Linked DNA regions of Homo sapiens: region 2 is linked to region 1. A link means that fine-mapping ties the variant in region 1 to the expression of a gene that starts in the linked region. Tissue or cell type: whole blood. Region 1 holds a variant in brackets; the other region holds the start of a gene. All regions are shown on one strand. Distances are from middle to middle.

Evidence for each region. PIP is the estimated chance that this variant, and not a neighbour inherited with it, causes the effect.
Region 2: CA2 starts here. The variant in region 1 is fine-mapped to the expression of CA2 in whole blood (TOPMed, PIP above 0.99). The same link has a PIP of 0.9 or more in blood mononuclear cells.

The regions. Positions count from the first base shown.
Region 1 is chr8:85,912,454-85,920,562 of GRCh38, reverse strand. No RefSeq gene overlaps it. Among named protein-coding and RNA genes, the nearest start is that of LINC02849, 61 kb to the right of the region's middle. The variant T/C (reference allele first, on the strand shown) is at 3,907.
Region 2 is chr8:85,459,262-85,467,370 of GRCh38, reverse strand. CA2 (carbonic anhydrase 2) reads right to left here and starts at 3,364. Exons shown (of 7, transcript NM_000067.3): 1 at 3,256-3,364; 2 at 1,902-2,099. The coding sequence starts at 3,289. It overlaps CA3-AS1 (CA3 antisense RNA 1), which reads left to right and starts at 2,456. Exons shown (of 3, transcript NR_121630.1): 1 at 2,456-2,789; 2 at 4,570-4,635. RefSeq lists enhancers at 2,756-3,255, 5,156-5,851 and silencers at 2,899-3,368, 3,479-3,798, 3,869-4,128.

The DNA.
Region 1 (8,109 bases):
TACTATATGCCAGACCCTGTATTAGGTCATGGGATATGCTACTGCACTGAATAAAAAGACAAAAAAAAAAAAAAAGCAAGCAAAAATTCCTGCTGTCGTGGGGCTTATATTCTAGTTGGCTAACTGGGGACGACAATGAGCAACATAAGTAAATTGTAGATAAATTAGATAGTGATGAGGAGTATGTGCTGAGGATGAAACATAGCACAGGGAATGAAGGGTGGGAGAAGGAGTTGAAGTTATAGACAGGGTGGCCCAGAAAGGCCCCGTGAAGAAGGTGTCACTTGAATAAAGACCCAAGGAGGCCAGAGAGGGAGCCCTGTGGATATCTGGGGGAAGAGGCCTGGGTAGGAAGCATGCCTGGCATGTTGGAGGAATGGCTGGGAGATGGAATGGCTTGGAACAGGTGAATGAGGGGCAGAATAGCAGGAGATGAGATAACAGGGTGACAGAGAACCAGGCCACATAGAGCCTTGTCCATCTTAGAAAGACTCAGGCTTCCACTCTAAGATAGAAAGGCATTAGAGGGCTTTTTGTTTGTTTAGGTTTTCTTATTTATTTATTTTTGTAGATGAGAGAAAGATGAGACTTCCATCTGAACAGCATCACTTTGGCTGAGAGTGGTGATTAGAGGGAAGGAAAAAGATGGAAGTGGGAGACCATTTGGGAGGCTACTGCAGGAATCCAGATGAGCCATGATGGTGACTTGCTATAAGTCAGGGAGGGTGATAAGTGATTAGACTTGGGGTACATTTAAAAAGTATATCCGAAAGGACTTTCTGGTGGGTTAGATTGGAAAGGAGGAATGCCAAAATCTCTGAAGCTTTCGGACTGAGCAAAGGATGAGATGAAGTAGACTGATGGACAAGCAGGTCTGGGTGGGGTGGTGAGATCACCCTCAGTCACGCTGAGCTAGAGGTGCCCATTAGGCAAGTGGCTGTGTCAAGTAGGTGAGTGGATATGGAAGCCTGGACTTGCAGGGAGAGGTCTAGTTTGGAGATATTGGTCTGTAAGTTGGCAGCCTAGAGGTAGTATTTAAAGCAATAAAATTGAATGGAATCATCTAGGAATAAATTTGGATACAAAAGATAAAAATTCAAGGGGTACACCCTTGATCGCTTCTAAAACTGAAGATCTGGAGAACTGGAGAAACCAGGAAAGGTGAGTGAGAAGGAGTGATTTGTGAGGTAGTAGGAAAACTGAGACAAGGATGTAGCTAAGTGTAGAAATTCCTGGGGTAGGGGTATGGAAGAGGGAGGGGTGTGTGTGTGTGTGTGTGTGTGGTGGATATGTGGTATATATGTCATATAAACTGTATCAAATGCAATTTGTAGAAACTGAATTGACTGCTGCATTTAGCAACATAGAGGTCATTTGTGAACCTGAGAAGCACATATAAAACAAAAATAATGGAGCACAGATTAAGTGACTAATGTGTGGTAGAGACCCTGCATGTGAGAACAATGTAAAGGTCTTGTAAAACGTACAGATTCCTGAATCCTATTCCCCAGAGAATTGAACCTGTAACTCTAGAATGGTGCCTGGGAAGCTTTCTTTTTAAAATGTACCATTTCACTTAGATGACCAGCCAGATTTTGAATTCCCCACTGTAGGTGCTTCACAGTCAGGAGAAAATAGTAATCACGCTGAGCAGCAGAATGTTACCCGAAGCAGAATAGATACAGTTGAATAGGCCAGAGAAGCTAGGAAACCTTATCACTGCCTCATGAGCAATGCAGCCAATTGACCATAATAAATAAGGAAAAGGAGCTCAAATTTCTCCAAGGAGTTCAAATTAGGGAGAGAGGATTTTGGAAAAGGACGTTGAAGCTGAATGGTGCAAACTGCAAGTCTAGCTAAGTCTGTGTAGGTAACCAAGAGTCACCGAGGGCATCCGAACCTGAATGGGACATTATGAAGTTGATATTTTGTGAAAATTATATATGCTAGCATTTTTCTTTATTTATTTTTTATTTATTTTTTATTATACTTTAACTTCTAGGGTACATGTGCACAACATGCAGGTTTGTTACATATGTATACATGTGCCATGTTGTTGTGCTGCACCCATTAACTTGTCATTTACATTAGGTATATCTCTTAATGCTATCCCTCTCCCCTCCCCCTACCCCATTACAGGCCCCAGTGTGTGATGTTCCCCTTCCTGTGTCCAAGTGTTCTCATTGTTCAATTCCCACCTATGAGTGAGAACACGCAGTGTTTGGTTTTTGTCCTTGCGAGAGTTTGCTGAGAATGATGGTTTCCAGCTTCATCCATGTCCCTACAAAGAACATGAACTCATCCTTTTTTATGGCTGCATAGTATTCCATGGTGTATATATGCCACATTTTCTTAATCCAGTCTATCATTGATGGACATTTGGGTTGGTTCCAAGTCTTTGCTATTGTGAATAGTGCCGCAATAAACATATGTGTGCATGTGTCTTTATAGCAGCATGATTGATAATCCTTTGGGTATATACCCAGTAATGGAATGGCTGGGTCAAATGGTATTTCTAGTTCTAGATCCTTGAGGAATCGCCATACTGTTTTCCACCATGGTTGAACTAGTTTACAGTCCCACCAACAGTGTAAAAGTGTTCCTATTTCTCCACTTCCTCTCCAGCACCTGTTGTTTCCTGACTTTTTAATGATCACCATTCTAACTGGTGTGAGATGGTATCTCATTGTGGTTTTGATTTGCATTTCTCTGATGGCCAGTGATGATGAGCATTTTTTCATGTGTGTGTTGGCTGCATAAATGTCTTCTTTTGAGAAGTGTCTGTTCATATCCTGTGCCCACTTATTGATGGGGTTGTTTGTTTTTTTCTTGTACATTTGTTTGAGTTCTTAGTAGATTCTGGATATTAGCCCTTTGTCAGATAAGTAGATTGCAAAAATTTTCTCCCATTCTGTAGGTTGCCTGTTCACTCTGATGGGAGTTTCTTTTGCTGTGCAGAAGCTCTTTAGTTTAATTAGATCCCACTTGTCAATTTTGGCTTTTGTTGCCATTGCTTTTGGTGTTTTAGACATGAAGTCCTTGCCCATGCCTATGTCCTGAATGGTATTGCCTAGATTTTCTTCTAGGGTTTTTATGGTTTTAGGTCTAATATTTGAGTCTTTAATCCATCTCAAATTAATTTTTGTATAAGGTGTAAGGAAGGGATCCAGTTTCAGCTTGCTAAATATGGCTAGCCAGTTTTCCCAATATGGTAGCATTTTTAAAGAAGTTAATTTGAATAATAATCCATTGTAAAGGTTATTTTTCATCTCTAATGTTGATAGGTACTCTGTTTTTCGTTTCATTGTGGACCTCAGTTTTAGGATTTTTATTATGTTTCTGGCCACTGCCGCATCTTTGCAGTTTCTGTCATCACTCTCTTTTCTGCCATTTTTTACATTTATCTTGAATAGTGATTCTCAAGCAATAAGCTCTAATGTTCTGATGAGCCCACATATTTTTATCAATCTGTAATATTTATTTTTATGTCATTGGGTATAAAATATATTTGTCAGACAGAACCCTGAGTGGAGTGGATCTTGCATTGGAGTGTAACAGAGAGAAAGTAAGAGGTAAGAGGAGGGTGATGGTACAATCTATCATCCATGCAAGGACACTTTCAGGAGTGAAAAGGGGTGCCATCAACAATCACATCAGGACAACAGGAAGGAACTGGAATTGTTTAGGTAAATTGGGACATATGTGCACCTAGGAACTACAGGCTTTAAAGCTAAGTTTAAAGCTAAAAAGAATGCTCTGCTTATGGAACTTATGAGAACTTTGCCTTGTGAATATATTGAGCGTGCCCTAGGTGGCAAATAGCATTATTTAAACAGCTGCTAGTGTGCAATGAGACGATAGTGCAGGAAATGTGGATACTTTTAGATAAACTGCAAAATATTGTGG[T/C]ATTTTCATAGTGGTTGTGCCTTGTGATTATGTGGATCGTTTACATCTATTTTGAGGTTTATACTTTATATGTCTCAGCTGTATAATTATGGTAAAGGTTATAATCCCTTCTAATATGCTTCAGAAACTTCTACTATTTGGAAATCTGCAGTGAACACAAAAGGAATGAATACGACTAACGTGCTCCAAGTGATTACTTAGAGCAGTTCGCCTGAAGGTTTGTTAAGATAATAGTTAATAATATCAACTCCTGCTAAACATTTCCACTCATTTCTAGGAAACTCCTCCTAGTTTGCATTTCCTCCATCTTCAGACATCTTCTGGTATCTCCTAGCCTGAATAAGAAAAACTCAATGTGACCCTGACAACATTTCTATGTACCTTTTCTTTTCAACAATTACCACGTTGATTGTTGAATCTGACGACGTATTTTAAATTCATGCTGCTTGATGACTTCACATCACTTTTATACCATTGATCTCTCTCCTGAAAATTCTCTTTGAAACATTACTATTTGCTTCTGCTTAAACCTTCTAGAACTGCTTCACTGATGCTTTTTTCTCCTCAGTTACGAAAGCTCTTGGTATTGTGTGTGGGCAATTCTGTGTATATTCTTGATGTTCTTTTTTTCTAAATTATTTTTATTCTACCCTAGAGGTTTCAATATCACTTATGTTATGCAGATGACCCCATCATACTGTGACTTTTTTCTTCATCTCGCTCTCATTTATTGCATGTGCCTTTTTTAATTTTAATTTTAATTTTAAGTTCTGGAGTACCTGTGCAAGATGTGCAGGTTTGTTACATAGGTAAACATGTGCCATGGTGGTTTGCTGCACCTATCAACTTGTCATCTAGGTACTAAGCCCAGCAGGCATTAGCTATTTTTCTAATGCTCTCCCTCCTCCAATCAGGCCTCAGTGTGTGTTATTCCCCTCCATGTGTCCATGTGTTCTCATTGTTTTCCTCCCTCTTATAAGTGAGAACATGCAGTGTTTGGTTTTCTGTTCCTGCCTCAGTTTGCTGAGGATAATGGCTTCCAGCTCCATCCATGTCCCTGCAAAGGACATGATCTCGTTTTTTTAATGGCTGCATAGTATTCCATGGTGTATATGTAACACATTTTCTTTATCTAGTCTGTCGTTGATGGGCATTTGGGTTGATTCCATGTCTTTGCTATTGTGAATAGTGCTGCAACGAACATACATGTGCATGTATCTTTGTATGGATTTATATTTGAATGATTTATATTTGAATGATTTATATTCCTTTGGGGTATGTACCCAGTAATGGGATTGCTGGGTCAAATGATATTTCTGGTTCTAGATCTTTGAGGAATTGCCACACCATCTTGCACAATGGTTGAACTAATTTACGTTCCCACCAACAGTGTAAAAGCATTCCTATTTCTCTGCAACCCTGCTAGCATTGAATTTTTCATAATACCTCGACTTCAGCTTATCCCAAGAAAAACTCATCCTGTTTTTTGCATGACTAGTCCCCACATTCTACTTCCCTGCACAGTTCTCTACAAAGATTGACTGATGGATACTTTGTGACTGAATAGCACAGCCTTTCACACAGTCACACTGTTCTTCCAGTGCTTAACAGTGACAGTCACAGGACATTTTTCATCTTATAATTCTGCTTCAGAAATCCCAGGGGCACAAGTGAATTTATACCATCTTAACCCCAAGGAATGGGCAATGCAGATCTGGGGCAGCCTCCCTGCACAGGGGCAAAGGTTGACTCCATAAAAGCTTACAGTATAGAATTGCTGAACAGAACGCATAATTCACATGGGTAGCTTGTACCTAAGAGAAAGAGGAGAGGAGGGAATTAAACTTGACTTGTCCAGTTTTGCTTCTAAAAGTTACTGGCCAGATTAAATCATAGAGACTAGGAGAGTTGTAAAAAGGGCATTTCATTCACATTAAAAAAAAGAAAAATAAAGATCTCTCAATAGTCCCAGTTTTAATTTTTTTTTTAACTCATTGGGCAAATAGTTGGAAACAATGGTCAAATCTACCACTTAATCCAAAAATAACATGATAGTAATAAGGTGCCCCACATTTGATCATAAAACCCAACCTCAGGATCAGATTGTCAAGGAGAATGAAAGTCCAAATATAAAGTTTCTAAAATTCAAAATCCAAAGTAATTCAAATCCATAATCAATCTTACTGCCCTTGTGGGCTAATTTCACAGGAATTGAAGTCCAAAATTCATCAACCACCTCAACTTCCTGTTCTGCTCAGTCCCAGCCAGATGGTTCTCGATGACTGAGGAGTGCTATGATTTCTTCAGCAGCTGCAGCCAAGTCTGTCTCAAGCCAAATCTCTCATGCCTCACTTGACAGTCCCAAAAGACTATCTGAGAACTGGCCCCACTCACCCACCAAATTTAGAAAACAAGCCAGTCTCCAGGCTCCTGGGCCAACTATTTCAGACAAAGATATGTTTACAACTTAGTGGAAACCCACCATACCCAGTGTTGCCAAAGATCTTAGCAGATACTCATGGCATCAGAGTGATAGAGGATGGGTGGGAAAAAATTAGATTTTTGCAAGGAAAGAGAAAGCACAGAGGTAGGCCAGGTGTTATGCTAGTGCAGCTCCTTTCAAATGGAAGGAAGCATCAGGAGTAGGGAGGAAGTGTCCTTCTCACCAACAAAAATTAAAAGTTCAGCATATAATTTTGCTTAGAACAAATCTCTTTTGTGATTATTTTCTGTCTCTTGACATATATCCACATTTCAAGTAATGGAGTATTTTCATGACTAAATTATAATGTTGTATTCATAAAAAATTAGCCAGGCGTGGTGGCGCATGCCTGTAGTCCCAGCTACTCGGGAGGCTGAGGCAGGAGAATTGCTTGAACCTGGGAGGCAAAGGTTGCAGTGAACCGAGATCGCGCTACTGCACTCCAGCCTGGGCAACAGAGCGAGACTCCGTCTCAATAAATAAATAAATAAATAAAATAAAAATAAATGTTGTATTCACAGATGTCAGCTCTAGTTCATTTATCCAAACTCAATAAATGACATCTTTATTTCCTGATTCTGTTTCATTCAAGAAGCAATGAGAAACTCATATGATATCTGAACGCAAGGGTAATTGCCTATTGTTTCAAAACTATAGAAACATTCAAGTTGTATATAATATTAGTTACTTAATCATTAGCATGTCATCTCTCAAGCTAGTTCACTTCTTGAGGTCATTTTCTCAGTCAACAATAGTTTCTGAAGAAAAATTAATGCTTTGGTGCTTTTGAATTTAACGTTGATTCCTTCATCAAAAACAGATAATCATAAATGTTCTATAATAGGATTAGTAACCTTTTTCTGTGAAGGACCTGACAATATGATCCCTGTTGCAATTACTAAACCCTGCTTTTTAGCAAGAAAGAAGCCACAGATGATAGGTAAATGAATGAGTATGGCTATGTAACGATAAAACTATCTACAAATGTGAAATTTGGCCCTTGGCCATAGTTTGCTGACCCCTGTTCTACAGGGATTAGTTTAGGACTCAGTGAGATAATGTGCCTAACACAATGTCTGACACAAGGTAGCCATTCAATAGATGCAAGTCTCCCATCTTGCTTTTCATTAGAAGAATTCCTCCAGAGCCTTGTAAGTATTTTAGCCAATTACATATATTCTTTCCGGCTTGGGAGCTCCGAAAGCTTAAAAAGAACAATTATCATTAGTTCCAAGGTATTTTAATAATTATTAAAGTTTGTTGCTTAATTATTGTTGCAAGAGTTCAATAATGCTTGGACCCAGGTAAATTTAAAAAATATGTATACAAAGAAATTAATTGTTTTTAAGCAGATTCTGAATATGTGAGACTGCTATTTAATTAAGTTTCTACCTACGACATAAAAACTAGTGTAATATGTAGTAGTCTTCCCAGAATGAAACATTAAAAAATAATTATGAGGATAAGCTGGCCCTTTGAATCAATTTTTTAACTAAAATTAATTTTGTCTTCTTTGCTTCCCAAACCAATAATTTCCTCCCTTTTAAAATAACAATAGGAATCTACACAAAATTTGTTATAGAGAATTTGACCAAGCCCTTTACATATTGTGTATTAAACACATACATGTGTTTATGTCTGTGTGCGTATATATACTTTCTGCCCATGTGCAAAATATACAGCATTATCTTTCCCATTTTTAAGCCATTACAATGTGTTAC
Region 2 (8,109 bases), 450 kb after region 1:
CTTTACAGTTAAAAACAATTAAAACCTAGACAGTATTACTCCCAAAGTCTCTGAGCTAGTTGCCGGCAGCTCTAGAACTCAAATCCAGGTCTCTCTGACCCCAGTCTATGCTGATAGCCACCAGACCATGTGTTCAAATCCACTTTCCAGTAATACATATTACTAGAATAATTTATTTCACTATCCATTTTTTAAGGACTATTAGGAACCTCATCTGCTTTCATTTGTTGGAGATTTGTTTCTTCAGTGCTCCAAAAAAGACTTAAACTATCCAATTTCTATGTAGCATCCAATGAGATACATAATTTGGCAGACATTACATCCATTGAAAACAATGACATCATTGTGGCTCTTTAAAAAAGTACAGCTACAGACTAAAGTAGCTCACTTCTTTTGGTTTGTAAATGACTAGACGTGAAATGTTATAGTATTCTTTCTGTATGTGTAATACCTTGAGACCTTTGGCCTTGTCTTGTTATAAATATACAGTATTCTTTACAAGAAAAAAATTGTTTAATTTAATTATATGAGCACTGTTCCTTTGGAGTGAGAGGAATGCTTGGGAAAGCAATGTAGCAGAATCACCGAACTGTTTTCAATGTACAACCTTTACTTGATTCTAATAAATCATCATACTATGCCAGAAAGTGTGAGTATGATTGTAAGTGTGTGTGTGTGTGTGTGTGTGTGTATGTATGTATGTATGTGTGTACTGGGGAGGGGTGCACACAGACAGGCACAGGTAGGTTGAAAACATTTCTCAGATGATCTCCACATTATCCCCCATCAAATTGTCTTCCAGAATCACCATTTCAGAAAGCCAGGTGTTTGCAAATTTTTTTAAAGTTGAAAGGAGGGAAGAATTCTTTTTTCAAAACCAAGTTGACTATATAGGATAGCTGCTGACAAAGAATAGTCTACCTGACTAAATGGTTATAATTACATATTATATAATATATTAGTACCGTAGGTCACTACTCCAAAACTTTCTCATTTTGTTCCACCACTCCCCTCACTCCCACACCACCACCAAACAAAATGTGTTTGCAGCACCATTTCATTCTATGACCTTCAGAGGAAAGCACTCAGGAAAATAGGGCACTGGCAATTAAATTAACTGCTTAGCAAAGAAGGCAGCTACTATGTGTGAATGGGATTGTTCTCTTGTTTCAAAAGAGAGAGAGATAAAAAAAAAAAAGCAGGATTTTTTTTCTTCTTTCTCTTTCTTTTTTTTTTTTTTTTTACAGTGAGCATCCTGTAAACAGCTCTATTACCAATAAATACGGTAATTGGTTTTGTCAGTAATGGGCCAGGTATGTTCACCAACTCTAAAACATCTTCGTTTGTGAAATGAATTTCTGAGTAGATATCAAAACATGCTGCCATCTTTATCACACTAGCCCAATACTAAGAAATACTCATAAGTAAAACATTTTCCCAGAATTTCAGTATTTTAAATTGGCACGTTTTTGTTACTCTTCTCGCTGCTAACTTGAAGATAAGGCTCACTAAGATATACTTTTTAATGGATATGCATCAGCTCTGCAAGACAAAATATTTTACAATCTTAAAAGTTCAATTGGTGCAAATCTCATCGTGACTGATCTTTATTGCGAGGGGACTTTGCACCTTTTGTGATTTTTCACAGGCATATCGCAGTTATTCAATGGCCTTCATAGAAGCCAAGGGTTTTACAGGGAAGAAACGGCCCCGGGACACTTCAAACTAATTAGCCTACTTCTCAGAATCTGAGACCTAATGAAAATGATCAGGGTGGCATCCTTGAGTCCTGAGACAAACTGTATTATTAAGAGGGTTCCTGCCACTGTTCCTGGCTCCTTCCATTAAGCTCGGAAAACAGCTACTGGCTAAAAGACACAAGTTATTTTCTAAACACTGACCTGCTTTGTCCTGAGAGTCATCAAACTCCACGTTGAAAGCATGACCATTGTTGAGGATCCTCAGGGAAGTTGCTTGATCATAGGAAACAGACAGGGGCTTCAGGGAAGGGTCATACTTGGCTGTATGAGTGTCGATGTCAACAGGGGACTGGCGCTCTCCCTTGGCAATGGGGAAGTCCTTATGCCAGTGCTCAGGTCCTGGGGGAAAGAAGACATGTGAATCCCCCATTGTGGGGAAAGGTACACCCAGACCCCTAGAGAAGAGCAATCATTCCGGAGCCAATCTGCTCAGTTCCAATTTTAGAAGCATCACTTAACAATGGGCTAAATTTTGGGAAAACACGTAATCTGTGCCTCAGTTTCCACATTTGTAATATGGGATAATTAGAAATCTACCTCATAGATGTCGCTGTAAGAATTAGAATCGATATATGTAAAGCTCTTAGATCACTGAGTGCTATATAAATATTAGCTATTTTAAGGTCGTTTTACTGAAATTCAGCAACTGAAATCGGGCAGACACTAATGTCAGGGCTTGTGGTTGCGATTTTGGGATATGCAAGCTCACTTAAGACATTCAAGGAGGTCTGGATCCTTTCCTCACTGCCCAGGCCCGGGCCCACCCCACCTTTAACCGTCAGGGTTCCCCACTACCTGGGAAGCCCCACACCCTCCAAAGATGCGCTAGGTGCGCCAGACGCATGCTCCTCTGCTCCGCTGGCTCCGAAGAACCAGATCTGAGGCCAAGATAAAACCCGATTCCTGATGTCCGACCCCCTAACATTAGAAGTCGAGAGATGAAGGGAAAACTCGGAAATCAGAGCCATGGATTCAAACCAGCACTGGAAAATGCCCCGGGACAGTTCGTGCTGAGCGCCTTAGCCACAGGTGGTGCTGAAGCTGGAGGGGTGGGGTGGGGGTGGAAGGTGGGGGAGGGGGGAGGGGAGTCTCTTAATTTCTCTGCGATCAACAACTAGAATTTTCCGTTACAACCCTTTCCCGCCTCCTCCTAGGTCCGGTTAAAATGATCCCCAGGTCGGGACCCGGGAGGGACTGTCCTCGGGTCCCGCGGCCAGGGCTGCGCCTCCCCTCCCTCGGGCCCTACGCGCCTCCGGCGGACGCGGGGATTCCTCCACAGTGGCCTCGCAGCTGGGGCAAGGGGGACATCCCCGGCGCCGCGGAGCCGCGAGCGGAGCGAGCGCCCGGGGCGCACCTGAGCCTCCAGCACTCCCCGCGGCCGCGGTAAACAGCATGTGCGGGCGCTGCGGGCCCCGGGCCGGCATCCGGGCTCGGGGATCGGGGATCGGGGATCGGGGATCGGGGCGCCCCCGCGCTGGCCGTCGCCGGCACTCACCGTTGTGTTTGCCGTACCCCCAGTGATGGGACATGGTCGCGCTGGCGGTCGGGGCAGGGCAGGAATCGGCACCGATCTGGCGGCGGCGGCTTGGGCGCCTGCACTGTGTGTCCGCGGGTCGCGCCGGCACCAGCTTTTATAGGCTCCCGCCAACTTCGTGCTCGGGGGCGGCCCGGGGGAGGGGGCTCGGGTGGACCTAGGCGACAAGGGGAGGTGGTGACGGGCGGAGGTGAACTCCCCGCGCTCGGGGCGGGGCGGGCCGGGCGGGCGAGTCTCCGGGGGCGGGGAAAACGCCCTCTCGGCTGGCGCCCGGCGGGGCTCCGGGGCTCCGGGGCTCCGGGGCTCCTCTCCCGCCGCCCGGCTCCCCTCGGCCCACGGCAGGGCCCCGGTGTCCTGGGCTGGCAGCGAAGCTCGGAGCTCTGGGCGTGCGGCGGCTGCGGTGGCTCCTGGGCTCCTCCGTCCAACCCGGGCCGCGGAGCCTCTACGCGCACCCCATCCCCCTCCCGGCTGCGGAGTCTGGCGGCGGCGGGGACTGCTCGGGACCCGGACCCCCGGCGCCTTTCGTCCCCTGTCCCCATTGTGACCTGTCTCTTGGCCCCGGAGCCCTCCCGCCCCACCCGCGCCGGGGTCTCCAGCGCGAAGGGCTCAGTCTCTGGTGTCCCCGGCCTGGGGCTGGCAAGCTGGGTTAGGAGCTATGACCTTGGGGCAAATAGGGATACGATCCTAGAGGCGCAGGGGAGCGCGCAGCATGAGTGCTGAGAGGCACGCGCCCTCTGCTGCACGGCCGTGGAATAAAACGAGACAACGGCCCCACAGTCCCCTGCCCGCAGCCCACGCTCGGGCGAGCCTGGAGGATTGCATTTCCTCGTAGGCTGGCAGAGCCTTACATGAAGCGCTCATCTTCTCCTACTTTCCTCCTCTTTAAAAAATTAACGTGGGTGAGGAGACGTCCTAGTTGAGTACATATTGATTTGAAATAACCAAAACTTTTAACAAATCACTTTTCTCAGAAGAATCCAGTAAGAGAAAGATAATTTCTTCCAAAGACATGAGACGTTCCCTGGCTGGCCAAGAAAAATTGGCATCTGGCATACCTAGGAATCATTCAAAATAGTTTAATAGGAAGGACATTTTGAGGCCAGCCAGCATTATGACATTTGTGGGTCCTACGGCATTTCACCTTGGTGGGTCCCTTTTTCATAAACACGCATTTATACCAACACTGACATAAAGATAAATATCTTAATATTATATATTTAAACATTTTCTTTAACCAACACCTAATTTTTTTCTTTTTTGTTCTTATTTTAAAAGGAAACATTTTCCTGGGCATCTAAAAGTATTGTGGACCTGAGACACTGTGCTTACAGGGCCTACTGGGTAAGTGAGGCTGTTTTGAGATATAGAGAGAATTCATTTCCTACAAGGGATTTTGCCACAGAAAAATCCGGGGGTTTGTGGGAAGGAGTTCGGTTCTGTGGTCTCTGCAATCTCTGAGGGCAATAGTATTAGAGTTACAGTTGGGGAAGCAGGACACAGTTTAATGTGATTGTGTCGGCCTTGACATCACATTACTTACCTTTGAAAATATACAGATAAATACAAGGATAAGTTATTAGTGGACATTTTTGCAATATGTATCTCAAAATCACTCTTTACTATTTATTTCAGTCAATTTCATCCAAACAAATATGATTCATGTTTAGACTTACTTGTTCTAAGATTCTAGAAAATTGTGTACTTCTGCTTATGTGGGTTTTGGGTTGATGTCACAGGGAATTCTTAGGCAAGAAAGCAGCAATAAAGTTTTTAAATTTTTAGGACCATTACAAAATGGAGTTTGTAGCAAAGAAGAAGCTTTTATTTGTGCCTCTGTAGGTGCATTGTATCTGTTGGGGCCCATTGATGTAATTTTGTTTCTTTACATAATTTTCAAATATTAACTTAGTTGCTATGAGACTCTTCACTTGGCCCTGGAGATATGGCGTTGATAGGTGCCAAGAATTGAGTGCAAAGTTTGTGAATGTAGAGTGGCTTCCCGGGATTCTGTGGAGGGAGCCAGGCGATTTGATCAGCAGGAATCCTTGTCTTTCATTTTCCGTGAAACTGGATTGTGGCTTTCCTAACAGGGATGAAGTAAGAGCATGTTTGATTCTTAAATATGCGTAAAACTTCAAACACCACCAAACTGCAGTTCACCAAATGGATTATTGTCATGGGAATTTTTCCTTATCTCTCACTTCTGGAAAGTGAATTAATTCTCAGTGGGAGCAAGCCCTCCCCACAGAGCTGCTGTTAGGGAGAGTGTCACATGTTCACCACAGGGTGGAGAGTGGTTCACCTTTGGTTACTCAGAAGCAATCTAAATTTTTTAGCAGCGTTTTTGGTATTACAGTGGTTGGCTTAGCATTGTTTTATTTTCCTGGTCAATTTTTTTTAATGGAGTTAACTTTATGCATTCATGTTGGTCAGTCCCAACCTAACTTTATTTTACTGAAGGCATTCTTCTTAGCAGGCTGTCATGATTCACTAGCTGCAAAAGACTACTCTAATACTGGATTTGTTCAAATAAAAAAAGTGCTTATCTTATTATGTACCTATCTTTCCATTAGAGGGAAGGATGGGTTCATTTCAGAATAATCTTAAGTAAAGGAACTGACAGTAGCTTAAGAAAAGTACTTTTCTTTGCCCCAGAAAAAAAAAAATTCAGGCAGTATATCAGGAAAATGTAATGTAAAAAAACTTAAAGTCTGTGTTCCAATTATTATAATAAAAAAGCTTCTAACATATTATTCTTAGTAAAAATGTGAAAGTATTTGCTTTTTCTCAAAAAATGTAAAGATATTGTTAAAATATTTTACAAGGTGAGATACACATTATTTATTAAATATTTAATTAAAAAGCTAATAAAAAGCCAGATATTCTCATATTTGTTACCATTATAGTGTTTAAGTAGATATCTGGGGCTGGACTCAGTGGCTCCCGCCTGTAATCCCAGCACTTTGGGAGGCCAAGGCAGGCGGATCGCTTGAGGTCAGGAGCTCAAGACCAGCCTGGGCAACATGGCAAAACCCCATCTTTACAAAAAATAAGAAGTTAGCCAGGCATGGTGGTGTGCCCCTGTAGTCCCAGCTGCTTAGGAGGCTAAGGTCGGCAGATCGGAACCCAGGAGGTTGAGGCTGCAGTGAGCCATGATCATGCGACTGCACTCCAGACTGGGAAACAGGAAGACACTGTCTCAAACAAAATAAAAATAAATAAATATCTATGAAGGCCAAGAGCCATTTGTTTCTTGGGGCTCCCATAGGTCTTTGCATACACATCCTTCTATCCTAATATTGGCAATTCTGCATTGTAATCAGACACTCTATTGTAATCATTGGGTTATAATCCAATGCCCCAATAAGCTGTTGACTGCTCATTTGTAAAGCAGGAATAATGACACTCACCTCATTGTTGTAAGAATTCAGTCAGTGAGCATAGATAAATCACCTGTCACGTGTAGGCACTCAGTAAATGATGGCTATTCAGTCCCTCCTAGACAGTGCTAAACAGTTAGAATATAATTTAAGGAATGCAAAATTAAACACCTGGGCCAGGTTCATGGGAAACATTTAAGAGGAATGAGTCTCCACAGCAGGAGGTGTTTTTTTGTTTGTTTTGTTTTGTTTTTTTTTGTGAGAGGACAGAGGAGTGTTTGGGTCATGGAGATGTCCATTCTACCACGCTTATGTTTTTCTTCCTAAACTGTGCCCCCTGAAGTTGAGTACTGTGTCACATTATTTATCTCTGTATCTTAGGCACCTAGTACCCTTTACCTAGCCTGAGTCCCAAGATACATATAGTAGTTACTCACATAGTACTCCTTGAAATTATAAACTTTGAAAAATCCAAATGGAGATAATGGCAGTTTCACTTTGCAGAAGTTAGTAAATAATTTTGTTACAGATTATAGTTAGCAAATAACATTGTGCTGAAATTAGGTTGGTTTTGAATCTGGGTTAATTTACTAGCTTTGTGACTTTGGGCAAATTTCTTGATTGTGCTAAGATTCAGTTTCCTCATCTATAAAACTAGGATAATAATAATACTTACCTCACAGAGTTGTGGTGAGGACTAAGATGATACAGTGTGTGAAGGATTTAACCTAGTGCCAATAATTAGAGCTTGATCAATGTCAGTTATCATTACTACCGTTACATGTTTCTCAGCTCCTATTTTGTGCTTAATATTTTCTATGTGCTAGGTGAGCTACACAAGATAACTTGTCTCATCATCCATTCACTCAATGAATCATTCTGAATGCTATTATGTGTCAGGCATCAGCACAGAGGCTATAGCCATAAACCAGATCAACATGACTCCTGCCCTCACAGAGTTTACATGGGGATGGATGGGGGTACTGTACAATAAATGACTCAAAATAAACAACAAAAGTAAATTTCCAATACTGAAAATTAGTATGAGGAAAGTAAAACAGGAATGAGGTAAAGAATAATGAGTGAGGAAATCCTACTTTAGATGCGGTGGTTATAGAAAACCTATTGAAGGAAGTACATTTGAGGAACCACTAAAAAAAGATCTGGGGGAGGGCATTTCAGGCAGAGGAAACAGCAAGTATAAAGGCCCTGAGAAAGGAAGTTTCTAGAACAGAAAAGCTTGTGACTGAAGCATGGTGACTGAGGAAGAAAAGACAAGTAGTGGAGTCAGAGACAGTCAGGGGCTACAGCCTGCAGAGCCTTGCAGACAATGATAGCAAGAAAGGATTTTATACTAGTTGCGCAGGGAAGCCACTAGGGAGTGGCTTATGCACAGGTATATTATGTGCTGGGAGGATATAATACAAACCACAAC